4 linked regions of the Homo sapiens genome follow. The protein of the gene in region 2 interacts with the protein of the main gene of each other region in a pairwise test. Each region holds a gene or a part of one and is shown on either strand. Other genes may lie near its edges.

What was found.
Region 1: the proteins of AGR3 (region 2) and FXYD3 interact in binary tests that used the Homo sapiens proteins (3 or more experiments, as listed by UniProt).
Region 3: the proteins of AGR3 (region 2) and PRAF2 interact in binary tests that used the Homo sapiens proteins (3 or more experiments, as listed by UniProt).
Region 4: the proteins of AGR3 (region 2) and CGRRF1 interact in binary tests that used the Homo sapiens proteins (3 or more experiments, as listed by UniProt).

What each region holds. Positions count from the first base shown.
Region 1 is NC_000019.10:35,111,973-35,118,830, reverse strand, and holds the start of FXYD3 (FXYD domain-containing ion transport regulator 3 isoform 1 precursor), read right to left. Parts: upstream 3,009-6,858; 5' UTR 2,872-3,008; exon of another isoform or gene 2,791-2,871; intron 2,568-2,790; 5' UTR 2,472-2,567; intron 1,575-2,471; exon of another isoform or gene 1,526-1,574; coding exon of another isoform or gene 1,453-1,525; intron 832-1,452; exon of another isoform or gene 707-831; intron 342-706; exon of another isoform or gene 232-341; intron 1-231. UniProt on the Homo sapiens protein: Associates with and regulates the activity of the sodium/potassium-transporting ATPase (NKA) which transports Na(+) out of the cell and K(+) into the cell.
Region 2 is NC_000007.14:16,878,970-16,886,285, forward strand, and holds the start of AGR3 (anterior gradient protein 3 precursor), read right to left. Parts: upstream 3,015-7,316; 5' UTR 2,975-3,014; intron 1,787-2,974; exon of another isoform or gene 1,755-1,786; intron 1-1,754. UniProt on the Homo sapiens protein: Required for calcium-mediated regulation of ciliary beat frequency and mucociliary clearance in the airway. Might be involved in the regulation of intracellular calcium in tracheal epithelial cells.
Region 3 is NC_000023.11:49,070,997-49,078,475, reverse strand, and holds PRAF2 (PRA1 family protein 2), read left to right. Parts: upstream 1-4,473; 5' UTR 4,474-4,488; coding exon 4,489-4,667; intron 4,668-5,825; coding exon 5,826-6,043; intron 6,044-6,467; coding exon 6,468-6,607; 3' UTR 6,608-7,315; downstream 7,316-7,479. Other genes in the region: WDR45 (WD repeat domain phosphoinositide-interacting protein 4), read left to right, coding at 381-435, 565-639, 729-833, 1,723-1,831, 1,952-2,046, 2,531-2,610, 2,723-2,931, 3,011-3,112 and 2 more. UniProt on the Homo sapiens protein: May be involved in ER/Golgi transport and vesicular traffic. Plays a proapoptotic role in cerulenin-induced neuroblastoma apoptosis.
Region 4 is NC_000014.9:54,512,905-54,519,928, reverse strand, and holds part of CGRRF1 (cell growth regulator with RING finger domain protein 1), read right to left. Parts: intron 1-7,024. UniProt on the Homo sapiens protein: Able to inhibit growth in several cell lines.

The sequences.
Region 1 (6,858 bases), on a different chromosome or scaffold from region 2:
TCAGGCTGAGGACTGAGCAGGTTCTTCAAGCTGCTTGGGGGTGGGGTGGTGTGTGGAGGAATTGACGTGAGGCTGGGACTGGGGGTAGAGGGGGACTCTACCTCCTGGCTGCAGCCCTAGCTCCATCTCTGTTCCCCCGAACCTCCTGCCCCTCATCCCACACCCATGCCCTTCCCGGTCCCAGCCCTGGCTCTGCCTAGCCGGGGTCCCCAGCCCAGCCCCTGACCCTACCCTAGGCCCAGCAGAGTTCCTGGTGACAGCAAACACTTTCTCTTTCCCAGGTAGACCTGCTCAGCATAAGGAACTCGTTTCTCTCTCCTTCCTGACCTGGCATCAGTCCTGCCCTCTCACCAGCCTGCAAGGCTGCACCAAGCCCTGGCCTCCGAGCATGCCCTCCCCTGCCCTGTCCCTGCCCTGTCCCTGCCCAAATGCTGAGTGCATAGTTATCATAATTGTTTTTTTTTTTTTTTTTTTTGAGGCGGAGTTTCACTCTGTCACCCAGGCTGGAGTGCAATGGCATAATCTCAGCTCACTGCAACCTCTGCCTCCTGGGTTCAAGTGATTCTCCTGCCTCAGCCTCCTGAGTAGCTGAGACTACAGGCGTGTGCCACCAGTCTCGGCTAATTTTTGCATTTTTGGTAGAGCCAGGGTTTCACTGTGTTGGCCAGGCTGGTCTCCAACTCCTGACCTCAGGTGATCCACCCACCCCGGCCTCCCTCAGTGCTGGGATTACAGGTGTGAGCCACCACGCCTGGCCTAGTTATAATTTTGATAGCGAGAGCTGGCACTTCCTCCACCTTGCCCTGGAGTGCACACTGACCTTGCCGTGTTCTCACTCACTTAACCCCCCAGCAATCCCCGACGTCGTCCACTATGTCCTCATTTCACGAACAGCAAAAATGCTGAGAGAGGGTGGTGCCCGCAACCAACGGTGCGGGTGGTCCTTGCAGGTTGGCACAGACTCCTCCCTCTGCCTGGCACCCCAGGGCCTGGGAATCCTCTCAGCTTCCCAGTTAATTCCACATGCTGAACTCACAATTTTAGTTGGAGCATCCATTTCTTTTCCTTTTTTTGCGGGAAGAAAGCCTGAGGCTTTGGGGAGCATTACTGAGGCCCAGGAAGTGTTTAGGATCCCCAAAAGTGTTGGGGGTTGGGGGAGCTGGCGTGGGTGGGTGGGCAGGATGGCATGTTGGATAGGGGCACAGGTTGTAGGTGGACTGCCTGTGGTCTGAAGCTGTCACCCATGACCATACGAGTCCTGGTAATAACAGCAGATGCTTATTGAGTGTCTACCCCATGGGGGCATTTTCTCAGCTTCCCACTTACTCGCTCAATCTCTGCAGCTTAATGCAGGGGGCACTATTATTAGCCCACATTGCAGTTGTAATCCTGTAACCCCTGCAAATTCATCTTAAAGCCCTATGCTCTGTCGCCATGGCTGTTGAGTCTCACCTCTTAAGCCTCTTTCCAGGGGCTCCTCCAAGCCACCTCTGGCCTGCAAGGCCCCACTATACCCCCTTCCCATGATGTCATCCAGCCAAGACTGACAGATGGTATCCTCCTCGCCCCAGCCTCTGCAAAACAACGTCCAGTCCCATGCTTCCGGAGGCTGCAGGGAGCCGGGAGCTGGGTCTGCCCTCACGTTCCCCATTCAGGCTGTTGTCTGAAGAGGCTGTGGGCTGCTCCCGAACTGATGTGGTTGGTGAGCAGGTTAGAGAGGAAGGCAGCCCTGCAGCTGATGCTCTGTCTACCTGCTCTCATCCTTCCTGGCCATGAGGTCCCAAGGCCGGCCTGAGGACTGTTTCCCCCACCTGCCCTCTGCTATCCCCTCTATTCCTCCATACCATGGGAGAATGGTCTCATGTTCAGGGGTGGGTAGAAAGATCCTGCCCGCTGTGTGCTCCTGAAATCTCCCAAGCAACTCCCCATTTAAAGCTTCCCCCAGCAGCTCCATCCTTTTTTCCTGGAGGTCTCCAGAATCCAGATCCCTCAATGTCTGGACACCCCGAGTCCACCCAGCACTCCTTATCCACCCAGATCCCTCAATGTCTGGACACCCCGAGTCCACCCAGCATTCCTCATCCACCCAGATGTCCCCAGTCCATCTACGCACCCCTGGTCCACTTAGATACCCCTACCTACCCAGGCACCCCCTCTCCTCCACCCAGCTATCCCCAACCCAGATATCCCTAATCCATGCAGACACTAGTCTTTCAGACACCCCAACCACACTTATCAGTCCTGCCCTCACCTCAGCTGGTTCAACAAGTCCCTGAGAGGAGAATGGTGGGGAAAGGGACATTAGGGGAAGGGACTTCCGTTTATCTCCTGGCTCCAGAAAAGCATTTCACAAGATTTTAGGCGCTTTAACATAAAAGCTTCTATGGGGCAGGGTCAGGGGGCAGGTAGATACTTCCTAATTTAGGGGCAGAGACAAGGAGGGCTTGGAGGAAGGGGCCCCAGCTGCTCACCTGTGTGGTTCACCAGGCTGAGCAGAGGTTCCGGGAGAAATCGGGCTGCCAGGCGGAGTCCTGCGTTTATCCGAAGCTGCCACGCCCTAAGCAAACCTGGGCAGGTAGAAAACAAGTCAGATGCCCTGAGGCCCAGGGGCTCCATTCCTGCTCTTAAAGAGACAGCTTCACCCCCTCCCCAGCCATGGGCGGCAGGTTGCTCCCTGGGGTCACCAGGACCACAGCAGCCTCAGGTGAGACGGAGAATTGGATGGGCTGGAACTCGGCCCCTGGAATTAAGGGAGGAGCTTTCTCCAATCTCCTGTGCCCAGGAGAGGACCTTGAATGGGGAAGGTTCTGGGGTCTTTAAACGGCAGAGCCTCCAGGGCCATGCAGTGAGATGATGCGTTGGTGTTCCGACCTCACTTCTTTTCCTTAGATGATGTGTTTTGCCTGGTGGAAGGATTGCTGGCAGTTGTGGAGAACTTAAAGTCCCCTTCCAGGCCACATCTTGCCGCTGGTACAATTTCAGGATCAGCAGAAGATGCTAGCGTGACCAAAGTCAGGAGATGGGGCAGGGGTGGATATGAGGGAGCGGCTGGAACAGCAGGGAGGGGTCAGGGTGGGGACTCTGGGACCTTAGTCCTGGTCATAACCTGCTCCCTGCCCTGGGGAGAATGAGAACTGTCTGCCAGGCACCAGGCTGCAGTTTCCTAGCCAGGCTCTTTCCGTGGGTGCTGGGAGCCAGACGCCTGGGTCTACAGAGTGGGTGCTGGTGGGGGCGGCTGCCTCCTAGTCCACATAAGGCCCCCAGCACTGTACAAGCCTCCCTCCCCCTTTCCTCCCCTGTCTCCTGCTCCTCCTCCTCCAGGCATTCCTTCCGGATGGGGTCTGTGCAGGCTCCCCCATGGTCCCAGTTGGGGGTGCCCCCTCCCCTCAATTCCGCCTTCTTAGACAGAGGGACTTTTGTCTGGGGGCTGGATGGAGAACAAGGATCCTTTGAGCGGTTGGCGGAGGATTGGGGTCACGGGGAGGGGTAGGGCCAGGAAAGGGGTAGCTCTGCCCTGGACACCAGCTGGACTCCAGGCGACCCCAACACCACCGTGGGGGCGGGGAGGAGGGCTGCAGGGCCTGGCCAGGGAGAAGCAGCTGCTGGGAGTGTGGAGCACAGGACAGGAAAAGGGGGTTTGGGTCAAGGCTCTTCCGGAAACTGGCCTGCTGGGGGCAGAGAGAAGGACCCCCCACTTGTCATCGCTGAGGGATCGGGGAGGGCAATGTTCGCCCAGCGCTACACCCCTTCTCTATGTGGTTCCCTGGGGCAAGTTGTCAAGCCCAGGTCCTAGACAAGGGTAAGGCTCCCTCCTACCACTCTTAAGGCGGGGCCAGTTCCCATAAGGAAGCCGGGCGGGGGGACCTCGGGGTAGGGCTCTAAGCAACAGGTCCAGGAGGAGATAGAAACAGGAAGGGGAGGCCCGGAGGCCAACTCAGTATAGCTAAGGGGGGTCTTTGTGTCTGGGCGGATAGCGTCTCTTCCCTAGACCCTTGAAGCTTGTGTCTGGGACGACCCCTTGGTGGTCTTGGGAGTGGAATGGTGTCTCCCTCTGCTGGGAAGCCTGGGAACTGCAGGCATCCGAGAGCGAGTAGGGGCGTGTACAGGGTGGCTGGGAAGGGCGGGGGGTGCTCTGCCCTTCACCGGAACGGGGTGAACTGGAGAACTGTTGTCTAAAAATCTTGGAGGAACACCCCTGCCCGTGGTTAGATACAGAAGTATTTCCCAGACAGCTTGCTAAGGGGAAAAAAAACAAGGTATTGGGAAACCGTGCAGTGTGCTACCATTTGTGAGCGGTAAAATAATGCATATGTATATACTTGTAATGAATAAAATATTTTTGGAGATTGGCATCCATACCCATGGCTTCTGGAGAGGGAAACTGGGAGGCTGGAGGGTGGGGTGGAAGTGAGACTCACTCATTATCACGTGCCCTCTTATATTTTTTGAATTTTGCATCTTGAAAATGTACTACCTTAAAGGGGTTTAATTTAAAAAATTTGGTTCAGATTTAAAAAAAAATTTGCAGGTCAAAATTTCAACCTAAGGGCTGGTTTCAACCTGGGGGACCAGCAATTAGAGACTTCTGACAACCTCTGAATGTTCTGTAGTTTTAAACACCATGATCTTACATTCTGAGGTACAGACGTTTACGGTTTTTACCCAATCCAGGTCAACCATAAATTCTTCCTAGGCTGGACGTGAACATGCTGCGTCCAAGTGTGTGTTGGGCTGGCGCTGGGGCTTGGGTTTATGGTCAGAAGGACTCTGAGACCCTAGTGTGATGAGCACACTGAGTCTTAGGAAGGGCTGTGAGGAGTAGAGTTTGTGCAGTCACTTGCACCCTATTGGGGATTAGGTCTCATTTGGAGTGAGTCTTCTGGGCCAATCTGACTTCAGTTATGTTTTAAATGCATGTAGGTAATATGTTTTATTAATATATTGTATATAATATACATAATAAACATATTTGAAAAAGTTTCTCTCGTTTTGCTTTTGGAATCATTTGGGCCCAAAGAACCTGTTAAGGCTGTGAGTGGCTGTGATTTCTCCATATCCTGGGAATTCTTGCAAAATGAAAAAAACCAAACCTACAGATAGTTTCTGACATCATAAGTTTTTCAGGAACGCTGAATTAAAGCACAGAATCAAAGCCAGAGCATGTTATACCATCCCTGATTCAAACTTTTATTGATTTTGTTTCAATAATTTCGTTGCTCTTTATTCAAGGCTGGGAGCGTTTCTGCAGGCTCCTGGCCCTAGAGAGGGCAGCCTGGAGGCACCCCCAGCCATGAGAGGGGTGCTGGTTGGGTGGGGCCTTGCCTTTGCAGGTAGAGCCTGAGCGGCCAGGCTGACCGGCTGGGAGGTGTGGTCACAGCGATACGCCAAGGTCCCACTTCCTGGGCAAGATGGGGCTAGAGAGGCCGGTGGACAGGGTAATGTGGCTTCCTGGGGCTTTGTGGAACAGCGCTGTGGTCTCAGCACCTGTGGGAGAAGAGTGGGCACTGGCAGGTAACCCTGTCCCACCACCATGGGGATGGTGTGGCTGTGGACGTATCACTGTCCGCCTGGCTTCCAGGAGCCATGTGAGGTGACACAGTGGCCAAGAGTCCACAGGCTCCCTGACACCTGCCTCTGTGCTGCTCTGACGTCATCACTCACCCACAGAAGCTAGAAATGGAGATTTTTATGATGAAATCTCCTGTTTTGTTTTGTTTTTTTTTTGAGATGGAATTTTGCTCTTGTCGCCCAGGCTGAAGTGCAGTGGCACGATCTCAGCTCACTGCAACCTCTGCCTTCCAGGTTCAAGCAATTCTCGTGCCTCAGCCTCTCGAGTAGGTGGGATTACAGGTGTGTGCCACCACGCCCGGCTAATTTTTGTATATTTAGTACAGACGGGGTTTCACCGTGCTGGCCAGGCTGGTTTCCAACTCCTGACCTCAAGTGATCCGCCTGCCTCAGCCTCCCAAAATGCTGGGATTACAGGCATGAGCCACCGAGCCCGGCCTTCCGGATTTTTTTTTTTTAAGGTGAGTTCTTGCTCTGTTGCCCAAGCTGGAGTGTAGTGGTCCAATCATGGCTCACTGCAGCCTCCAACTCCTGGGCTTAAGTGATTCTCCCACCTCAGCCTCCCCTGTAGCTGGGACTACAAATGCACGTCACCACACCTGGCTAATTTTTTAATTTTTTTAGAGACGGGGGTCTCGCTATGTTGCCCAACCTGGTCTTGAACTCTGGGTCTCAAGTGATCCTCCCACCTTGGCTTCCCGAAGCGCAGGGATTATAGGTGCAAGCCACTGCACCCGGCCCTGATTTTTAAATGTTGGTAACTTCGTTTTCTTAACACTTTGTAGACAGAATGAAAAATATCCAGTGGTTGGATAAGGCCCTGGGGCCACCGGTTGGAGACCCCCATCTTACAGACTAGGGAAACTCAGGGGAGGTTCAGGGTTCCCCCTAACCCCTGTTGTCACTCACTCTGCTCCGGCCACCTGGGCCTCCTTGCCGTTCCTGGATCACTCCAGGCATGTTTCTGGCCAAGAGCCCTTGCAATGCCTATTCCCTTGCCTGGCTCTCTTTTCTCCCGCATCTGGACAGCTCAAAGCCATGAGGTTCAAGTGGCTTTCCCCGACCACCATCGCACCTACCCCCTGACCTCTCTATGACCTTTTGACTTCTGTTTGCTTTTTTTTTTTTTTTTTTGTGGTGCTATCTGCCTCCCCTGCTAGCACGTCAGCTCCTCTCAGGGATTTTCATCTGAATTATAGAACAGGGCCTGGTGCATAGTGGGTGGTCACGAAGTATCTGTTAATTACCAGGCTGGGCACCATGGCTCACGCCTGTAATCCCAGCACTCTG
Region 2 (7,316 bases):
ATAAGATCATGTTGTTTGATGTCTTGTAAACTATGAAGTGACTTTTAGCATGCAGAAATATTCTTTGCCTTTTGATTCTCCTTCATCTAATAGGTCAAAATATTTTAACTCTATACTAAGATAAGATTATACATGAATAAATATTGCTTAAAATAGAAATCAGAGGAAAAATAGAATATGGAGGATTCTTGTCCTTCAGTTCCTTTATAGTTTCTTACCTTTCTCATCCTTCCAACAATTACTCAGACTTTTGCCCTTCAGTTTATGATACAGCTCTTTATAAAAATCAAGTACTATCATATTACTATAAATTAGACATATGTATAGAGAAGAATAGACTGTCATGATTACATTCTCTCCTGGTTAGCTAGAATTCAAACTGATTCTTAACTCAATGTGCATCTTTTATACTTTGCACGTTAAGATAAAAACTGAAGTCCAAAGTTGGGCCTGATCTGGTCATAAACCACTTGATAAATATATTACAGGAAGTCTTTAATACTTGTGAGATGTTTAGTTACAGCATTAGCATATAAAACTGATTTGAAAATGGTTGACTCATGCAGTTTTGAAACTTTACCTCAAAATATAAAATAAATATACAGACATCATTCACATTGATTTGAAGTTCCTTTAAGACGTCTTTCCTATTGGCTTACATTATTTAGTATTGAACTCATCACCAAAATAGTAAAATTTCCTTAGCCAAAATGGCTAGTGACTGATTCTTTAGTGATTCTGTTCAAACAAAGATGTTGCTATATTTTATTGTAGTAGGCATTGTGGAAAATGAAAAGATATATAAGACACAATGTTTTGGCATTGGTAAAACATTTGGCAATTTTAATCACCTAGTTATTGTAAAGTAGCAACCGCAGTCGTGGAGGAGAACAACAATTTGGTGGTAAAGAAGTTTACAGATTCTAGATTTCTCCAGACATTTCCTCATTCCTCCCATTATACTGTTTTCCCCTTCCCAGTGGTGTATCTATTGCAGCCCCTCTATGGACTGAAAATAGTTACCACTCCAGGTTAACCTTACTTTATTTCCCTCCCTAATCCCCAGTTGTCCCTCCCTCCTTCCCTTCCCCTTCCTTCCTTCCCCTTCCTTCTTTCCCCTTCCTTCCTTCCTTCCTTCTTTCCTTCCTTCCTTCCTTCCTCTTTCTCTCTCTCTTTCTTTCTTTTCTTTCTCTCTCCTTTCTTTCTTTTTTTTTTTTTTTTGCTCTTGTCACCCAGGCTGGAGTGCAGTGGGGCCATCTCCACTCACTGCAACCTCCGCCTCCCAGGTTCAAGCGATTCTCCTGCCTCAGCTTCCCAAGTACGTGGGACTACAGGTGTCCACCATCATGCCCGGCTAATTTTTGTATTTTTAGTAGAGATGGGGTTTCACCATGTTGGCCAGGCTGATCTCAAACTCCTGACCTCAAATGATCCAACTGCTTCGGCCTCCCAAAGTGCTGGGATTACAAGGGTGAGCTACATCGCCCGGACTCCTTTCCTCTCCCCTCCTTTCCCCTCCTTTCCCCTCCTTTCCCCTCCTCTTTCCCCTCCTCTCCCCTCCCCTCCCCTCCCCTCCTCTCCCCTCCTTTCCCCTCCTTTCCCCTCCTCTCCCCTCCTTTCCCCTCCTTTCCTGTCCTTTCTTTCCAGGCATATAAAAACCCTGTTAAACAATTATCACGGTGCCTGATAAGAATTTCAGTTTAAGTTCTCATAACTTATTAAACCATAAAACATTTCAGAATGTCATCTTGTACCTTAAGGCCTTGGTCATCTTGTACTTTAAAGACTGAAACAAATACAGGGTGGATTTTAGTACAGGACAGGGACAGTTGACTCTGGAACACAAAGCTCAACCCAGGGAAGGCAGCCTTAGTTAGACAGGTTGGGAGTTGCAGTGGAGGAACTAAAGCAACCACCTAGGACAGGATCTTAACCTGGATCCAGCAGGCTTCTAGAAGGCCTGTGGCTGAGCTACAGAAGGCTCAAAACCCCTGGAAATTGTGTGCAAAATTTTATCTGCCTCTGTTCCTTTTCCGTGGGAATAGGGTCCAAAACGTCATTAAAATTCTTCCAGGGATCTTGGATATAAAGAAGAGTTAAGAAAAGTCAATCTGGAAGGAATCTTTAGAAAGATTTTTCTATGTTAGCTACAGAGACAAGCAGGTGGAATCTGCATTTTAAAAAAGAAAAAGCATAACCTCATCATTTTTGCTATTTTAAAGCTGCGAAGCTTAGAGTTAAGCGGGAACCATTTTTTCTTTAAAATTTCAAGTCTTTATGTATTATTGTCAAATACTTTCTAATTAAAAAATAAAAATCTTGGTTTTCTGGTTTTACATTGATAAATTATAAAATAGATATTAAATATATTCTGTGACAAAGCAGTACAACTTGTACACTGTAGATTTTGAATAAATAACGCTTTCCTTGGTAAAATATAGTGTAAACTGCTGAGGGTCCTTTAGTATCAGTTGCAAGGTTAAGCTACTTGGGGGAACACAGATAAATGTGGCATGGTTACAGGCCTACAGCAGCTTAAAATGCATTTGGGAGGCACATAACCATATGTCAGCAATTAGATTGTATAAACATTGGTCAATTAGCATTTTATGACATTAGTATTTTATTTTTCAAAAGTAATTTAACGTAAGTAACTGATATTATAAGTTCCTATATTTTAAAATAAAACAAGACTTAAAAGAATATAAAGAAGAGCTATCATTACTTGTAGAATACTTTTCAAAGAGTCGTTTTTGTGGTTGACGTCAATTTATTCTAATACCATTAATATAAATAGAGATAAAACTATGAAACCAGCAAAGGAAATCCAGTTCAGTAAAAGAAGAAAAATAAAAATTCATTTCACTTTCCTACCCTTTACTGAAAGCTTCACTTTTAAATAGCAAAAGGTGATTATTTAAATATAGCAAAGCTTGACCACTGATTAAGTAATCTGGAAAATTTGCTTGCTTACCTGACTTGGCCAGTGCTCTTGTTGGAAATGTATTCTGGATGTTTCTGGTTAAAAATGGGTGTGGATTTATAGACACACACACACACACCTGACCTACAACCTCACCTGCATAGAAACAAGAGCATAGTTACCGGAAAACAAACTTAGAAAAATAGGCTGGTCTGAAAAACTCTGTACTTCTTTCCAGTTCTCATGCTTCTCACACTAAAAAAGCTCTATTCTTTTTCTCTAAATTAAGATTGAATGTCCTCATAAAATAAGGTCAAATACCATCTTTGTGCTTCTTTCTCTTTTACCTTTTATTTCCCAAGGTAGTTTAATGTTTGGCTGAAGTTCAGCACAAAAAAAAAAAAGAAAAGGAAGAAAGAAAACGGAATGAATTTAAGAACTGTGTGCATGCCATTGTTCAAATAGAAATTCCTAAGGGTTACTCTGTTTACAGGAATATAATTAACAGCTAAAGAGATTGGGTCCTTTTTTTTTTGAGAGAGAAGGAAATAAAAATTCTGTTTTAAAGTTGAACATTTTCATAATTTGATTATTCTTTACAATTTTTCTATAAAACCTTTACTGCACAAAAAATTAGAAAAACAGGCCATTAGATAAGTTTAAATTTATCTAATAGTTAGATACTGTTGAATTAATTGAGAGTAATTATTTAATTACTGTTAAAATAACGTAAGGCAGTGTGTCATCAAATTTGGCATACCTGTTTTTTGTACAGCCCAGGAAACAGGAACGGTTTTGACATTTTTAAACGGTTGGGGAAAAAAACCCAAAAGAATCATATTTTGTGACATGTGAAAGTTATATGAAATTCAATTTCAGTGTCCTTAAGTAGAGAGAGATGTGGCGGATGGCATGCAGCCATGTGCATTTGCTTACTAGTGTCTATGGCTACTTTTGCACTGCAACAGCAAAGTCCGGTACAGTCCAGGACAGTGGATACCAAAATCTGTGCACACTCAAAGTCCCATATCTGGCCCTGCGTAACCCACAGATATGAAAAGTTGGTCCTCCGCATATGCAGGTTTGGCATCCCGTGAACACAGTATTTTTGATCCACTTTTGGTTGTGGATACAGAACTTGCCCATATGAAGGAATATATTAAAAAAAAATCCTTCTCTAAGTGAACCCACACAATTCAAATCTATGTTGTTTAAGGGTCAACTGTGCTTGTGACAGGGACTGTATGATCTGCAAAACCTAAAATATTTACTATCTTTAGTAAATGTTTACAGAAAATGTTTGTTGAACCTTAATCCAGGGTATTGTTTATAAATTCCTTCCTTCCTTCTTTCCTTCCTTTCTTCCTTTGCTTCCTTTCTTCCTCTCTCCCTCCCTCCCTTCCTCTCTTCCTCCCTTCCTCTCTTCCTCCCTTCCTCTCTTCCTCCCTTCCTCTCTTCCTCCATCCCTCCATCCCTCCATCCCTCCCTTCTCCCACCCTTTTTTTGTTTCTTTTTTTTGTGGGGAAGGGTCTAATTGCTCTGAATACATTAACAAATATACTGTGCAAGAATGGGAGTGATGATTGTCTTGCTCCTGATGTTAAAGCGGGTGTGCTTCCAGTATTTTAACTTTAGATGTAGTGCTGGATTTGGCTGAGTTGACCATGTTAAGAAGGTAACCATTATTCTTAAACTACATCTCTTAAAAGCAGGACTGTTGGATTTTGTTCTATAAAGATGGGCATATGGATTTTCTCATTTGTTATAGAAAATTTTACTGTTTTCCTAATTAAACTTTCCATTGTCCTGAAAGAAACTTCATGTAGCTAGGTTGTATATTCTTTAACTGTACTGCTGATTTGTGTACTTGTCTAACTGTGCTTTCTTCCTTACATAGGATTCTCAAAGGGACCCTTCCCTGGAACATGCTATTCAAATGGAATCCTTCTTGCTGAAGGTTATGAAACTTGACATATAATTTTAATTTTAAATCCAGCCAGCCTTTGCAAAGCAAAGAAATGGCTGGGCAATAATCCTTATATTTCTCTGTTAGTGAAAAGTCTGGGAAAGCTTTCAACTTCTTGTTGACTGAGAGTGGTTACGGAAAAATCTCCAAATATTCTGCATCCCTGTTAAACTTCTCACATAATATTCATTTAAATAAATTATAAGATAAGAGTGAGAAAGAGGAAGTCGAGTACCTGTGGGGTAGTGAAACTAGACCCTATAATGTCTGAGCTGATCAGTGTCTTTTGGTCTCTCCCACTAGGGTGATAATGCAATGTGTCCTCTAACCCAGGACAATTTTGAAAGTAAAAGGAGGTAATAAAGTCATTGGAATTATAGCATCTTAAAATAATATTTTGAAATATATATTTGTCATCCAAAATTTGTTTTATTGTGTAATAGATCACAAATGGTTCTATGAAAGATTATTCTTAGAAGTAAAATTATTTAAAGTATATTCATGTACATGATGGCAAATTATACAAATTATTCTTTGTATATAATTATGTTAATCATTTTCTTAACTGTACCTATCTGATACCAGGTGGCTGGTATTTTTCTGGCATTAACTGTCTTTATTTTTTCAATGTGACCTCATATTTATTTTTTCATAAAATTGCCTGCAATAATCTTCAAAATCAATCTTACGGTTAATGGATTTGGAATTGTCAACAGCTTCAATTGACTCTTCCTGTAGGTCATATTACATCCTATTTTTAATTAAGAAAATAATTTTTCTATAGCCGATGGGTTACCCAGTAATTTGAGAAAGTTCAGTTCACTGGAGGACAGTTTTAATTCTAATTTTAATCTTACTGAAATATTATCTCAAATATTGTCTTTTAGCCTCTGCTTAGAGTACCTTCTTCAACAGAAAATTTTACAAGATAAAACAAGTAACATAAGTCATCTTGCCTTATAATTATTTTAAATGTTTCATTAAATTTCCAAGCTACAAAATTGTAGGGCCTCTCTGTTTCATTCTATTCAGGAACAGAATATAAGTGTGTCTAATTATATACTCTTTTAATAATAAATCAAGCTGTTTTGCTCTTGGAGTTGATTCTTTTGAGGGCATTGTTCTATATTTTTACAAGTTTAATTGGTCACATAAATCATTGGTTAAATATAGGATTAGGATTACCTATTCACTTTGTGTGTGTGTGTGTGTGTGTGTGTGTGTGTATGTGTCCATCTGTTTGTCTGTATTTCAGTTTATCAGTCTCTTACTAAGAAAATATATATACATTTTAAAAGGCTGACAGTGGAAAGTAGGTATTCCTCTTGCCCAGTCTATGGGTCTTCTTGAGGCAATAACGGTTTATACATCTACCTATTTATGTTTGTATATTAACACAAATGGTGCCATTCAATGAATACTTCTGAACCTCTTTTTTATGTAATAATATTGAAGATTGTACCATATTAGGACAGGTATTTGTGAAACTATTCAGTAAATGAAAGAGAATAATGTCTTGCAGAGAGCATTTATGTATCACTGTTTTCTAAATCCTGTAGAGGCAAATAGTTATTTTTAAAAATATTGGGTTTGGAGAAAAAAGACTCTTTGGGTTAAAGGAATAGATACCTCCAGAATTCATTATTGAGCTGTGCAATTTTATACCAAACATTTAAATGCATAGTGTTTTTATAAGCCTCTCATAATCAATGTCTGTAACCTACAGGTTCTTGCTCTGTCAAAATTAGTTACACTTCCCATTGCAAAACAATAATGTTTTATTTCCATTAAGCATAAAGTCTCTGAACTTGCAGGGTATTACATCTAAACACTTGATAAACCTGTGGTATTTTTACAATATAAATATAAATGAGATTTATTCCTTGGTATTTGCCCTGTGAGCTAAGTAAGATTAAGTAGAATTGTGCATGTAGCTTTTGGATTAGAGATTCAAGTCCTTCAATCAGGCTCTTACCTGTAGCTTGTCGTGATAACTTTGTACTTTTTCCCATAAAAATGCTTTTATATCTTAAACAGGCATATCATTTTTTCCTGCCATGGTGGAGATCAGGGACTCAGCCTGGCCAGTTTCCTCAGCCCAGGTCAGGGAGGGCCTGTTTTGGAAGACATGAATAAAATTAAAATGGATTGTGCAGAGCTGGGAGGCAGCCATGGTAAATCTGAAGTGAGATCCCCAAATAGTTCTCAAGTAGATGAAGAATAGATACAGAAAATGGGAAGAAGAAAGCAGAGCCAGAGAGTAACAGAAGCAGGGAAAGGAGGGAGACAATAACGGGTGTGGGGAGGAAAGAGTGGTAGGGCTCTTGAGTGATGTGTGGGGCATTTGGCTCCGTTCAACAGGCTGGAGAATATGGATGTGGTCTTACCATGAGATTAGAGGATAAAGAACATTTTTAAGATGGCAAA
Region 3 (7,479 bases), on a different chromosome or scaffold from region 2:
ATTTCGGCTCACTGCCATCTCAGCCTCTCGGGTTCAAGCAATTCTCCTGCCTCAGCCTCCTGAGTAGCTGGGATTATAGGTGCCCCCCACCACACCCGGCTAACTTTTGTATTTTTATTAGAGACGGGATTTCACCATGTTAGCCAGGCTGATCTCAAACTCCTGACCTCAGGTGATCCACCCGCCTTGGCCTCCCAAAGTGCTGGGATTACAGGCATAAGCCACCACGCCTGGCCTGTTTTTATCTTTTTTGCAGTCACTCCAGAGTCAGTAGTTAGCAGAGTAGGAGGAGGAAATCAGGTGAGGCAGAACTTGGAGGGGAGATTCCAGGACTCTTCTCATCTTTATCCCATTTGTATGCAGAGGAACAATCCTGCACCATGACTCAACAGCCACTTCGAGGAGTGACCAGCCTGCGTTTCAACCAAGACCAAAGTGAGAGAGGATTGGGCCTGTACCCTTGTGGGAGGAAGCGAGGAAAAGAGGGGTCAGAAGTGGGCCATGGGCCCCCAGCTTCCTACCTGGGCATTCTTTAAGGCAGTCTGGATTCCTTCCATCCCCCAGGCTGCTTTTGCTGCGCCATGGAGACAGGTGTGCGCATCTACAACGTGGAGCCCTTGATGGAGAAGGGGCATCTGGGTGAGCTGTTGGCAGGGGAGGGGCAATGGGCAGAAGAGCTGGGCTGGGCGTTGGCTCCCACCTCCACTGACACCCTGGTCCCTGTCCAGACCACGAGCAGGTGGGCAGCATGGGCTTGGTGGAGATGCTGCACCGCTCCAACCTTCTGGCCTTGGTGGGCGGTGGTAGTAGTCCCAAGTTCTCAGAGATCTCAGGTAAGTGCCCTCATCCTGCCCTTTGGCCCAGATTTCTCGGATTCCTGGCCTCCCACAGGCACCCCAAGGTACTGGCAGATGAAGACGTCAGAGTACTTCAGAGTCACACAGAGAGGAGGCCTACAGCTTGGAAGTCATGGATCTTATAGCTTGAGAAGCTTGGTGCTTTGTTTTCATTTTAAAAATTCTGATTGAGTGCCTCCTGTGTGCCATGCCCTAGAGCACTTACTGTGAGCCTGGAACTGCCCTAAGCACTTTACGTTTATTAACTCATTTAATCCTCACAGTAACTCTATGGGGTAGGAAGGATCATTATCCCCATCTTTACCGATGAGGAAACTGAGGCCCAGTGCAGTTAAGTGACTCATCCAAGGTCACACAAGCAATAGGTTTTAAAATCTTGGAGCCGTCTTCCCAATACCCCCTTGGCTTGAGCCTCAAGTGCCATCTTACTTTAAGGGTTTTTCTTGATGATCCCATCTGGACAAGGCAGGAGTTGCCCTAGGTGAGTCACAGAGCCCTAGGATTCCTCACGGAAATCTCCAGGGTGCATGGACTAGGACCCTGGAGGCAGAAATAGTTACCGAGGGGAAGTTACAGGCCTGAGTGTGAGTCCCTGTTTGGTTGCTGATGAGCTTTGAGGTCCTTGGCCAGACACTCAACCACTTTGAACCTCAGTTTCCTCATCTGTAGATGAGTGTAACAGTCTAGAACACTCCTCTCAGGGATCATATCCACAAGTGCTCGTGCTGTGCGAGGATCTCACTGGTTGTTTATTGAAAGGCTAAGCAAGTAGGTTGAGGTCCCTGGGAAGCAGGGGTGGATCCTGTGTCACCAGGGCTGCCCCTTACCCTAAACCTTGGCCCCGACAACCCACCCACCTGCCCAGCAGTGCTGATCTGGGACGATGCCCGGGAGGGCAAGGACTCCAAGGAGAAGCTGGTGCTGGAGTTCACCTTCACCAAGCCAGTGCTTTCTGTGCGCATGCGCCATGACAAGTGAGCCTGAGGAGGACCGGGGTGGGAGGTAGGAGGTCCCCACAGTAAGTGAGAGGGATAGTCCTCCCTGGGCATCCCGCCACCCCCTCACGGCCATCCTGTGTTGTGTGATACCCACAGGATCGTGATCGTGCTGAAGAACCGCATCTATGTGTACTCCTTCCCCGACAATCCCCGAAAGCTGTTTGAGTTTGATACCCGGGACAACCCCAAGGGTGAGAGGGCTCAGATACACAGGTGTAAGGGCATGAAACAGTGGATGGGGCAGAGGGGCAGAGATGAGGAAAGAAAGGAAGGGGCACTCACACACAGAGAAATGGGGAAAGAGGCAGGGAGATGCTCACACTCATAGCCTCTCCATCTTTCCAGCCCTCAGCCAGTTCTCCCCACCTCCGGACCTGCCCCACCCCTGGGTACCCCAGTGGCAGAGCAAAAACACCTCGTGAGGACATGGGTGGGTGTGTCAGGGATCCCTGAGCTTCTGGGGCTGTGATAGCAGCTTACTAGATTCCACAGCTGCAGAGCAAGGAATGGAATCTGCCTAGCTGGCGGGGCGTGCAGCTGAGCTGAGCCCCCTCAGGGTTCTTCGGGTTAAGCTTATCGTGGAGGGTTGAAGTCTGGTCCTCATCCAGCTCTGTCCATTCTGAGATGCTGCCTCCTCTTCAGCCGCCCACCCCACCCCCCATCTTCACACCCTAGGGCTCTGTGACCTCTGCCCCAGCCTGGAGAAGCAACTGCTAGTGTTCCCGGGACACAAGTGTGGGAGTCTGCAACTTGTGGTGAGCCGTCCAGTGGACAAGGGTGGGTAGGTTGGTGGACTGGCTTCCTTGTGGACTCTTGGCCCCTTCCCTCCATACCACCCCAACCTCAGACTCCTCCCTCCTACCCCAGGACCTGGCGAGCACAAAGCCTGGCACCTCGTCTGCTCCATTCACGATCAATGCACATCAGAGTGACATAGCCTGTGTGTCTCTAAACCAGCCAGGCACTGTAGTGGCCTCAGCCTCCCAGAAGGGTACCCTTATTCGCCTCTTTGACACACAATCCAAGGAGAAACTGGTGGAGCTGCGCCGAGGCACTGACCCTGCCACCCTCTACTGGTGAGCACAGGGTATGCATGGTGGGCTGGTGACCCCATACCACATGACATGTGGGCATCACTGCTGATCTGTCTTCTAGCATTAACTTCAGCCACGACTCCTCCTTCCTCTGCGCTTCCAGTGATAAGGGTACTGTCCATATCTTTGCTCTCAAGGATACCCGCCTCAACCGCCGCTCCGCGTGAGTACCCCCTCCCCACCCTACCGTGTCCCTGTCCCCCTGCCCATTTACCATACCTGGGCTTAGCCAGTGCTGCCTGCAGGCTGGCTCGCGTGGGCAAGGTGGGGCCTATGATTGGGCAGTACGTGGACTCTCAGTGGAGCCTGGCGAGCTTCACTGTGCCTGCTGAGTCAGCTTGCATCTGCGCCTTCGGTCGCAATACTTCCAAGAACGTCAACTCTGTCATTGGTGAGTGGGAACAGCCCCTTGGTTGGGGGTACTGCATGGGGCAAAGGCCTGCAGGTTGGACCTGAAAGGATTTTAGGGCCATGTGAGGCTCAGCTTCATCATCAGTAAGGGGGACAGCACTGGGCAAAGGCCTGGAGGCAGACCCTAGGTCCTGAGATGCCTGAGAGGACTGGAGCCTGTGGCTGTGGCAGCCTCTGACCTTTTACCACCCCCCCTCCCCCAGCCATCTGCGTAGATGGGACCTTCCACAAATATGTCTTCACTCCTGATGGAAACTGCAACAGAGAGGCTTTCGACGTGTACCTTGACATCTGTGATGATGATGACTTTTAAGGACCCTGGGGGCTGTGCTAGGGACCTGCAGTGGCAGAACTGCAGAGCTGAGCCTTGGCAGTGGGGCGTGCTTGGAAGCCACCAGCCAGCAAGCATTAATGGGGCTGGTGCCCACTTTCCACTCAGCAGAGCTATGTCTAAATAAAGAGCTCACTTCCCCCCAGCACTTCTTGATGACTGTGTGCCCCAAGGGCCAGGCCAGAGACCCAGGAAGGCAGCGACCCCTTGGGATCCCTAACCTGGAGGAAATTGCCAGGGACCCAGAGGGAGTGCCCTAATCCAACCTGGGGATTTTTTAAAAGCTTCCTAGGAAGAGATGATCTCCGATGTGATGAATACGAATAAAAGGCCCTTAATGGCATTTACGGCTTGACCTCAGGGGCGGGGCATGGAGTTTCCTGGAGAAATGTGACCCTCTTGGGCGCTGACAGGAAGGAGGTGGAATCCAACTCGGATCCTTGTGACAGTCCCTCCTTTCTTATCTGTCTGGCTACTTTGTGCTTGAGCCGCTGGCACCGCCCGGAGCAGCCCCTGCGGCGCCCCGCGCGGGGGTGGATGGCAGTTTTAAGGGTTGGGAGCATCTCGCTTCGTGGCAAAGGCTTGATTTCCCGGCAGCCTTTGCTGCTTTCCTGAGCGGCGTGTTAGTTGCTTTTCCGGTCACGTGCATCGCCGCCCCTGCGCAATCCACCTAGGAGGTTAGGAAAAAGCTGCCCAGCCCAGACTCCATTTCCCGGTGTGCCCCGCGGTGGCGAGGGGCGTAACGGTTGTTGTAGTCCGGCCCCCTCCTGGCTGGTCCAGCCACATTAACCGGCAGGATGTCGGAGGTGCGGCTGCCACCGCTACGCGCCCTGGACGACTTTGTTCTGGGGTCGGCGCGTCTGGCGGCTCCGGATCCATGCGACCCGCAGCGATGGTGCCACCGCGTCATCAACAACCTCCTCTACTACCAAACCAACTACCTTCTCTGCTTCGGCATCGGCCTCGCTCTCGCCGGGTGAGGGAGGGAGGCGCCGGTTGGCCAGGGACGTCTGCAGAGCGTGGGGGTAGACCCACAGGTCTTTGAGGACCAGGACGGGGAACCTGAGGGGGGTGCAAGGCCGGGAAGGGCGAAGTCAGTAGAGATGGACGGCCTGAGGGGCTTGGAAGGGGGGCCTTGAAGGAGGTGGAGCCTAGTTATAAGGAGGGCCTCAGGGAGATGGAGCCTGGCTGATGAGGAGGGCCTGCGGGGGATGGGGGTCTGCAAGGAAGATATGGGGAGGATGGAGACAAGTGTGGGACTGAAGGGGAAAGTGGGCTGGAAGGTGAACCGGAAAAAAAGGAGGGCCCGAAAGGGGGACATGAGAGTACTTGAGGGGCGTAGGGGGGGTGTGATGTGAATGATGGGGCCAGATTGAGGCCGACCCTGGAGTACTTAGGGCAGAGACCGGGAAATAGACGGTAAAGTTGGAGGGTTTGGAAGATGTATTTATTGGGGATCCGGTCTTGGAGGGGAGCCTGGCTATGATTGGAAGGCGCCAGGGGCAGGTACCTGTTGGGGAACTTGGGCCCAGGAGGAGGATCCATGGTTGGAAAGCCTGAGACCAGAGAGGGATGGAGAATCTGGAGGAAGGACTTGAGCAGTGCTGAAAGTTCAGAGTGGGGCTGACGACCTGGAAGAGGTCCTAGCAATGATGGAGGGAGGAATCTATAGGGAAATGGGAGCCTGGAGGGCGGTTCTATAAGGACCCTAGGCCTGGGGAGAGGGGAACGTGTGAAGACAGAAGGCCTGAAAGAGGGATTTGCAGGGGCTGGTGTTAAAGGGGGAGCTTGCGGGCAGGCTGATGAGGGGCCCTACGGGGGCAGAGTCGGAAGGAAAGTCCAGGGAAGTGTTGGGAGCCCGGGGGTGTGGGGAGTGTCTAGCAGGATGGGAGGGCCTGAAGCGGGGACCTGAGGAAGACAGGACAGTGGAATTGACAAGGAGGAAAGGAGGGGTCTACAAGGGTGAGTCGGGAGCCCTGGCAGATGGGCCTGCTGGAGATAGGGCTGGTGGGAGGATGTGCCAGGCTGGAGTGTCCGGAGACGGGAGACCCTGGCTCTTGGGGCCCAGGGTGGGTGGTGGTCCGGAGGCCGTCTCTCCGCCCGGCCGGCTAGCTTGGTTCCCTTGTACCCGCAGGTACGTGCGGCCACTTCATACGCTCCTGAGCGCGCTGGTAGTGGCGGTGGCCCTCGGCGTGCTGGTGTGGGCAGCTGAGACCCGCGCAGCTGTGCGCCGCTGCCGCCGCAGCCACCCTGCAGCCTGCCTGGCCGCAGTGCTTGCCGTCGGCCTCCTGGTGCTCTGGGTCGCGGGCGGCGCTTGCACCTTCCTGTTCAGCATCGCCGGGCCGGTGCTTCGTGAGTCTCCACTACCCCGAGATAGCCAGGAAAGCAGCCAGAGCATGCTTAAGGCACCAGGCCAGCCCTGCCGGTCCCCGGGTTGAGAGGGGGCTGGGAAACCCGAGGGCCTCGCCACGCCCCCGCTAAAAGCGCCTTCCCGGGCTTCGTTCCCCCTTCTGGGAACACCCCTTTTATTATCGCCTTTCCTATCTCACTCTTGGTGTTAAGTGCCTTCCACTGGCCACGTCCCCGTTACCGGGCGTCTTCCCTGGCCATGCCCACGTTGCCAAGCCAATTACTCGGCCACGCTTTCAGTATCTGAGGCGTCCTGGCTGCTCACCACTCCATTGGCCTGCCTGCGCGCCAATTCCCTTCGGTGGGCCCCGGTTGGCTGCAGGCTGAGGTCTATTCCACTGACCACCCCTCTCGGTGCCGCCCACAGTGATCCTGGTGCACGCCTCGTTGCGCCTGCGCAACCTTAAGAACAAGATTGAGAACAAGATCGAGAGCATTGGTCTCAAGCGGACGCCAATGGGCCTGCTACTAGAGGCACTGGGACAAGAGCAGGAGGCTGGATCCTAGGCCCCTGGGATCTGTACCCAGGACCTGGAGAATACCACCCCACCCCCAGCCCATAATTGGGACCCAGAGCCCTTTCCCAGCACTTAAAACAGGAGCCTAGAGCCCCCTGCCCAAACAAAACAGGACATCTGTGACCGCCCTACCCCCACGCCAGCCCCAAACTAAGATATCCCTCACACCCAGCCCCCATTACCTAGGGACAAGAGTCTTCCCCAGCCTTGAACCCAGGACCAAGAGCCACCTACATCCAGCCCCAAAACTGGCTTCAGGCCAGAGCATCCATGGCCAATTTCAAATTGTGAACCCAGAGACACTCCCATCCACCCTTCTCCATGCTCATCCCCAAACTGGGGCCTGGGGCAAGGCACTCTCAAATCTTGAACCCTGGACCAAAGCTTTTCCAGACCCCACCCTACCTTCCAACCCAGGTCAAGACATTGCCAAATCTTGAACTCAGAACCCAAGTGTTCCATGCCCCTGTGTGGATGGAGTCGGGTATCCTGACTGTTGGACCCCTGGTCCAGGTGATCCCGACCCTCACCAGTCCCATTTGCCTCCCTCCAGCTCTGCTTAGGCATTTTGCCCCTCACCCCAATGTTCCACACCATCGACAACCAAGGGGTGAGGTGGGGACAGGCCTCAGCAGGGAATGGGGCGTATATGTTAGTGTTGCTGCAACAATAAAGCCTGTTGCATCTCTCATGCCAATTTGAGCCTCCTGGGTAAAGTCCTTGTACATTTCAAAGGACAGAAGTGGCCTACTTTTCAATTCTGCTAGACTCTTCCTGAATATGTGGGCTGAAGAGGTGATCTCTGAGGCCCTTCCTTGAACTTATGACCTCTGGATCAGCATTAAAGCACAGGGAAGGACA
Region 4 (7,024 bases), on a different chromosome or scaffold from region 2:
ATGTGGACAGATATGTAATAGAGAAATTACAGTAAAATGCTGATTGTAGAATCTAAGTGATGGGCAGATGTGTGTTCACTGTGTAATTCTTTCTAGTATTCTGTATGTTTGAAAATTTTTATAATAAAATGCTGGGAACAAATACCTTTATGGATCCAAAAAAAGCAAAGAAACAAAGTAATGAGTAAGGCTATGCCATGGTTTCATGGTTCTCAGTCTGGCAGCAGACAGTGGCAACCAAGCCTTCATGTACTAAGGAGACCAGCATAGGCTGTCTTCTCCAGACAAGGGCCAGAGCCAGGTTTATAACTTGGAACCAGGAGCTGGATTAGGTCAATACAAAAATACGCAGAACTGTCGTTATAAGACTTGGTCCTAGGCTGGGTGCACTGGCTCCTGCCCATAATCCCAGAACTTTGGGAGGCTGAGGAGGGAGGAATGCTTGAGCCCAGGAGTTCGACACCAGTCTGGGCAACAATAGCGAGACCCCATCTCTACAAAAAAAAAAAAAAAAAAATGGAAAATTAGTTGGGCATGGTGGTGTACACCTGTGGTCCCAGCTACTTAAGAGGCTGAGGTGGAAGGATCGCTTGAGCCTGGGAGGTCAAGACTGCAGTAAGCAGAGATTGTGCCACTGCACTCCAGCCTGGGCAACACAGAGAGATTCTGTCTCAAAAAAAAAAGGCCAGGCACAGTAGCTCACGCCTGTGATCCCAACATTTTGGGAGGCCAAGGTGGGCAGATCACCCGAGGTCGGGAGTTCAAGACCAGCTTGAACAACATGGAGAAACCCCGTCTCTACTAAAAATACAAAAAAAATTAGCTGGGCATGGTGGTGCATGCCTGTAATCCCAGCTACTTGGGAGGCTGAGGCAGGAGAATTGCTTGAACCCAGGAGGCAGAGGTTGCAGAGAGCCGAGATCATGCCATTGTACTCCAGCCTGGGCAACAAGAGTGAAACTCCGTCCCAAACAAAACAAAACAAAACAAAACAAAACAACAAAAACCTAGTCCTGGTCTGGAGGTCTAGGAATCTGGGTATAAATGAATATAAAATGTTTTTGCAATCTATCCATCTGACAAAGGTCTAATATCCAGAGTCTACAAGGAACTTAAACAAATTTACAAGAAAAAAACAACCCCATTAAAAAGTAGGCAAACCACATGAACAGACACTTCTTAAAAGACATTCATGCAGCCAACAAACATGTGAAAAACAGCTCAACATCACTGATCATTAGAGAAATGCAAATCAAAACCACAATGAGATACCATTTCACGCCAGTCATAATGGCAATTATTAAAAAAATCCAGAAACAACAGATCTTGGCAAAGTTGTGGAGAAAAAGAAACACTTTTTTTTTTCTTTTTTTTTTTTGAGATGGAGTTTCGCTCTTGTTGCCCAGGCTGGACTGCAATGGCATGATCTCAGCTCACCGCAACCTCCACCTCCTGGGTTCAAGTGATTCTCCTGCCTCAGCCTCCCAAGTAGCTGGGATTCCAGGCATGCACCACCACGCCTGGCTAATTTTTTTTTGTATTTTTAGTAGAGACGGGATTTCTCCATGTTGGTCAGGCTGGTCTCAAGCTCCCGACCTCAGGTGATCTGCCCACCTCGGCCTCCCAAAGTGCTAGGATTACAGGCATGAGCCACTGCGCCTGGCCTAAAAGAAACACTTTTGCACTGTTGGTGGGAATATAAATTAGTTCAACTATTGTGGAAGACAGTATGGCAATTCCTCAAAAATCTAGAGGCAGAAATACCATTTGACCCAGCAATCCTATTACTGAGTATATACCCAAAGGAATATAAATCATTCTATTATAAAGATACATGCATGCATATATTAATTTCAGCACTAGTCACAATAGCAAAGACATGGAATCAACCCAAATGCCCATTAGTGATAGACTGGATGAAGAAAATGTGGTACATATGCACCACAGAATACTATGCAGCCATAAAAAGGAACAAGGTCATGTCCTTTGCAGGAAAATGCGTCAAGCTGGAAGCCATTATCCTCAGCAAACTAATGCAAGAACAGAAAATCAAACATTGCATATTCTCACTTGTAAGTGGGAGCAGACAGTGAGAACACATGGACACATGGAGGGGAAACAACACAGACTGGGGCCCATCAGGGTGGGAGCTGGGGGAGGGAGAGCATCAAGAATAGCTAATGGATGCTGGGCTTAATATCAAGGTGAATGGTTGATCTGTGCAGCTAACCACCATGGCACACATTTACCTATGTAACAAACCTGCACATCCTGCACATGTACCCCAGAACTTAAAAGTTGAAGGAAAAAATAAAATAAAATACTCAACTAAAAATAATAATAATAATAATAATTGCAAAGTGGATAAACAGTGAGGGTGATAACAAAGGGAGAAAAGTAACAAAACAAAACGAATCTTCCACTAAAATTTAGGTTGAAAACTAAAGTTTCAAAACACACAAGTCTAACACTGAAAGATAACCAATAAAATTAACAAATGAAATAAAAATTCACTTTTGATGACTCTGATTTTATAAAAGAGTTGGGTAAGACTGCTCTGGTCCTGCCTAACAAAGCTGAAAAGCAAGCCTCTAACAGACTAAACTATTTCTGAGTAACTTAACAGTGACCCAGAATAAAGCTCAAGAATATTTAGAGGAATACAAAAATATCCAGCACCTAGTAAGGTAAAATTCACAAAGTATAGCATCTGATAAAAAAACATTAACAGGCATGCAAAGAGCAGGAAAACAGTACCCACAATGAGGAGCAAAACTCTATAGAAATAGATCCAGAAATCATACAGATACTTGAATTAGTAGACAAGGATATAAAAATAGCTCCTAGGACTATATTCCATATGTTTCAGAAGAAAAGTAATGACTGCACATATGATATAGAGGCATGGAAGATATTTAAAAGGCCCAAATCAATATTTAGAGATGAAAAAGATAATGTTTTAGATAAAAAATATAGTGGATGAGATTAACAGCAGATTAGGTATTGCACAATAAAAGATTAGTAATCTTGAAGACAACATAACAGAAAGTACTGAAATTGAAACACAGAAAGGAAAAAGACTGAACAACAACAACAACAAAAAGCATCAGTAAGCCAACTTTTAGTCAGCCATGTAACTGAAGTCTTAACATATCACTGAAGTTTGCAGAGGACAGATAAAGTATTTGAACACATAATGGCGAAAACCTTCCCCAACATGTTGAAAACTATAAAAACCTACAGACCCAAGAATCTCAATGAGCTCCAAGCACAAGAAACAAGGAAAATTACCTAAGGCACATAATAATCAAATTGCTTAAAACCAGTAATATAGAGAAAATCCTAAGAAAAAGAAAGAAGATATGCTACGGTAGCCAAAGAAAAGGAAAAAAAGATATACTACACATAGAGGAACAAAGATAAGAATGTCAGTAGCTTTTTAATATTAATAAGAAGCAATGGAAGGCAGAATATCTTTAAAGAACTAACAGGAAAAAAATCTTGTCAATCTAGAATTCTATACCTATATTTTTCCAAAGCAAAATAAAGACTTTTTCAAACATAACAAAAGCTAAAAGAATTCATCACCAACAGACTTGCACAACAAGAAAAATTAAAGTATGCCTTGGGAAGAAGAAAAATGATACCAAATAAAAATCTGGATTGATACAAAGAAATAAATAGCAGTGAAATGGTAACTACGTGAGGAATTATAATGCTTTTCTTATATCTCTTTAAAATATTACCTGAAGGTAGATGGTGATAAGTTAGAGATACATTATAAACTTTCAAGCAACCACTAAAAAAAGTTATTGCTAATAAACCAACAAAGGAGATAAAATGGAATCACATAAATTATTTAACTAATGTAAATGATGGCTGAACAAAGGGGAAAAAGAAACAAAAAACAGACTAGTAAAATAAAAGAGGGGAAAAGAAACAAAGAACAGACAAAACAAACAAAAAACGAATAGCAAGATGGTGGAATTAAATCTAACAATATCAATAATCACATTAAATGTAAATGTTTTAAACTCCCTAGTTAAAAGGCAAAGATTATCAGATTGGATAAAAACATAAGACCTAGCTATATGGTGCATACAAGAAACCCACTTTAAATAAAAAGACAAAAAGAGTTTACAAGTAAAAGGATGAAAAAAAGATGTATATGCTAACACTAATCAAAAGAAAGCTGAAGTAGCTACATTAATACCAGACAAAGTAGATCTCAGAGCAAAGACTATTACCAGGATCAAAGAGGTCCATTTCATAGTGATATAAGGGTCAATTCATCATGCACACAAAATAATCCTAAATGTTTATGTACCTATTAATAGAACTTCAAAATATAAAGCAAAAACTGATACAACTGCCAAGAGAAATAGATAAATCCACAATTATAGTCAGAAATTCTAATACTCCCCACAACTTCAATAACTGATAGCTCCAATATATAGAAAATCAGTAAGGACATCAAAAACTTGAATAACACTATCAACCAATTTGACTTAATTGACACTTATAAAACATCTCACCCGGCCGGGCGCGGTGACTCACACCTGTAATCCCAGCACTTCGGGAGGTCATCGCGGGCAGATCATGAGGTCAAGCGATCGAGACCATCCTGGCCAACATGATGAAACCCCATCTCTACTAAAAATTAAAAAAAAAAATTAGTTGGGCATGGTAGTGCACACCTGTAGTCCCAGCTACTCTGGAGGCTGAGGCAGGAGAATTGCTTGAATCCAGGAGGCGGAGGTTGCAGTGAGCCGAGATCATACCACTGCACTCCAGCCTGGTGACAGAGCGAGACTCTGTCTCAAAAAAAAAAAAAAAAACAAAAAACTCACCCAATAATAGCAGAATATATATTATTTTTAAGTGCATTAGGACATTTACCAAAGAGAGAATATATTTGGATTATAAAACAAGTCTCAATAAATTTACAAGATGTCAAATCATAAAAAGTATGCTAACCACAATGGAATCAAATTATAAATCAGTAACAGAGATATCTTTAAAATTTCCAAATATTTGGAAACTCAATAACAAACTTCTAAATAACTTAGAGGTCAAGAAAAAAATCAAAAGGGAAATTATTTTAAATTATGACCTGAATAAAAATGAAGACATATGTGTCAAAATGTGGGGGAATGCTGATAAAGCAGTACTTACAAGGAAATTAGAAGGCACTCAACATTTCTGTTCCATCTCCTGGAAGAGAAGACCAAATACAGCATGTTCTCACTTATAAGTGGGAGCTAAATGATGAGAACTCATGAGCCCAAAGAAGGGAACAACAGATACTGGGATCCACCTGAGGGTGGAAGTTAGGAGGAAGAACAGGAGCAGAAAAGATAACTATTGAGTACTGGGATTAATACCTGGGTGATGAAATAATCTGTACAACAAACCCATGACACGAGTTTACCTATGTAACAAACCTTCACATGTACCTCTGAACCTAAATGTTTAAAAACAACAACAACAGAAATCTCAACGTTATAAAATACAGGCCACCAATGAGTCCAAGTTTCCATCAAACAAACAAGTATGAGTTAACGCTTTAGATGCAGAATTTCTTGAGAATATACCCAGATGAATAAATATGATCTGATCTAGTGTTACATTCTATTCTCCGGCTTACAATCCATCCTCACATATATTCCTCAGGATTCCACAGATATAAATTAGCAAAATTTTGCAATTCTTTTCAAGGACAGACTATTTCTAGTCAGATCAGATTTTGTCCCTATACTAGGCAACATGCAGAGATCTGGGCCTCATGACAAGATAATAGAGGTAGCTCTTAAGTGTGGATAGCCCTTTGCAAAGAAACTACCCTAGGTGAGGTTATTACAGGATCTTCAAGCAAGAGAAGGCTAATTTTCAAAAGTAAGCAGCTTCTGTCAACAATGGAGGCTCAGAGTGACTGGAGTTTTTTTCAAGATTCTCAGCTCTGTCCATGTCTACCTAGATGTCCCCATTCCAAGTCTCAGGGTTCTACTTCTTTCCAAACAATATTCTAAATGAGACACTGACAAAGGCTAGGTAATTCTATTACTATCGCAGTTAAAACTGTGTTCAGGCACCTGCCACCATGCCTGGCTAATTTTTCTATTTTTTGTAGAGACCGAGTTTTGCCATATTTCCCATGTTGGTCTTGAACTTCTGGGCTCAAACAGTCTTCCTGCCTCAGCCTCCCAAAGTGCTGGAATTATAGGCAGTGAGCCAAAATCATGCCACTGCACTCCAGCTCGGACAACAGAGCAAGACTCTGTCTCAAAAATAACATAACATAACATAACATTACATAACATAACATAACATAACATAACATAACATAACATAACATAACATAAAACTGTGTCCAATTTTTAGCAAGTCTTTCCGTGGCTACACAAAATGAAGTGCTTTAGAACCATGGAAACTTTTTGATTCTCTAAGACTTGACCGATCTAACGCTTTGAAGACCTGAGTTTGTCATTTGCTTTCTGTCAGTGCTCCAGTGAACAAAGAAGCACCTATCTCACTTCTCACTTCTCCCTCAGTCCCTGTAGTCATCATTACTGCCATTAACAGTCAAGCGCTTTAGCCACTTGGTCCTCCAGCACACAGCTTCAGAAATAATTTTATCACAATCAACCAAATGTATCAATTTGATTGTGATGCCACTACATGTTGTGGGTTACTAGATTATTTCCCATTGGCAAAGAGCTAAAGAAATTACCAAACCGATGCCCCCAAATTCTATCTTTGAAAGTTTTCTCACCAGGATCCCATTCTTAGTGACAATTTCTTTATCAGTCAGGGTCCAGGCAGGAGTCTGAAAATGCATCCGTTATTTTAACAGAGAGATTGGACTTGATTTTTAAAGTTGTCAGCATCAACATCAAGAGAAATTTTCATATGAAAAATGTTAACCATATGTTGAAGAACTGAAAAGGCAAAAAGAGGACACTGAGTCCTACTTATGTGATAAGAAGTAGTAACAGCAGGAAGCAGCTATCACTCCTAGGACAAG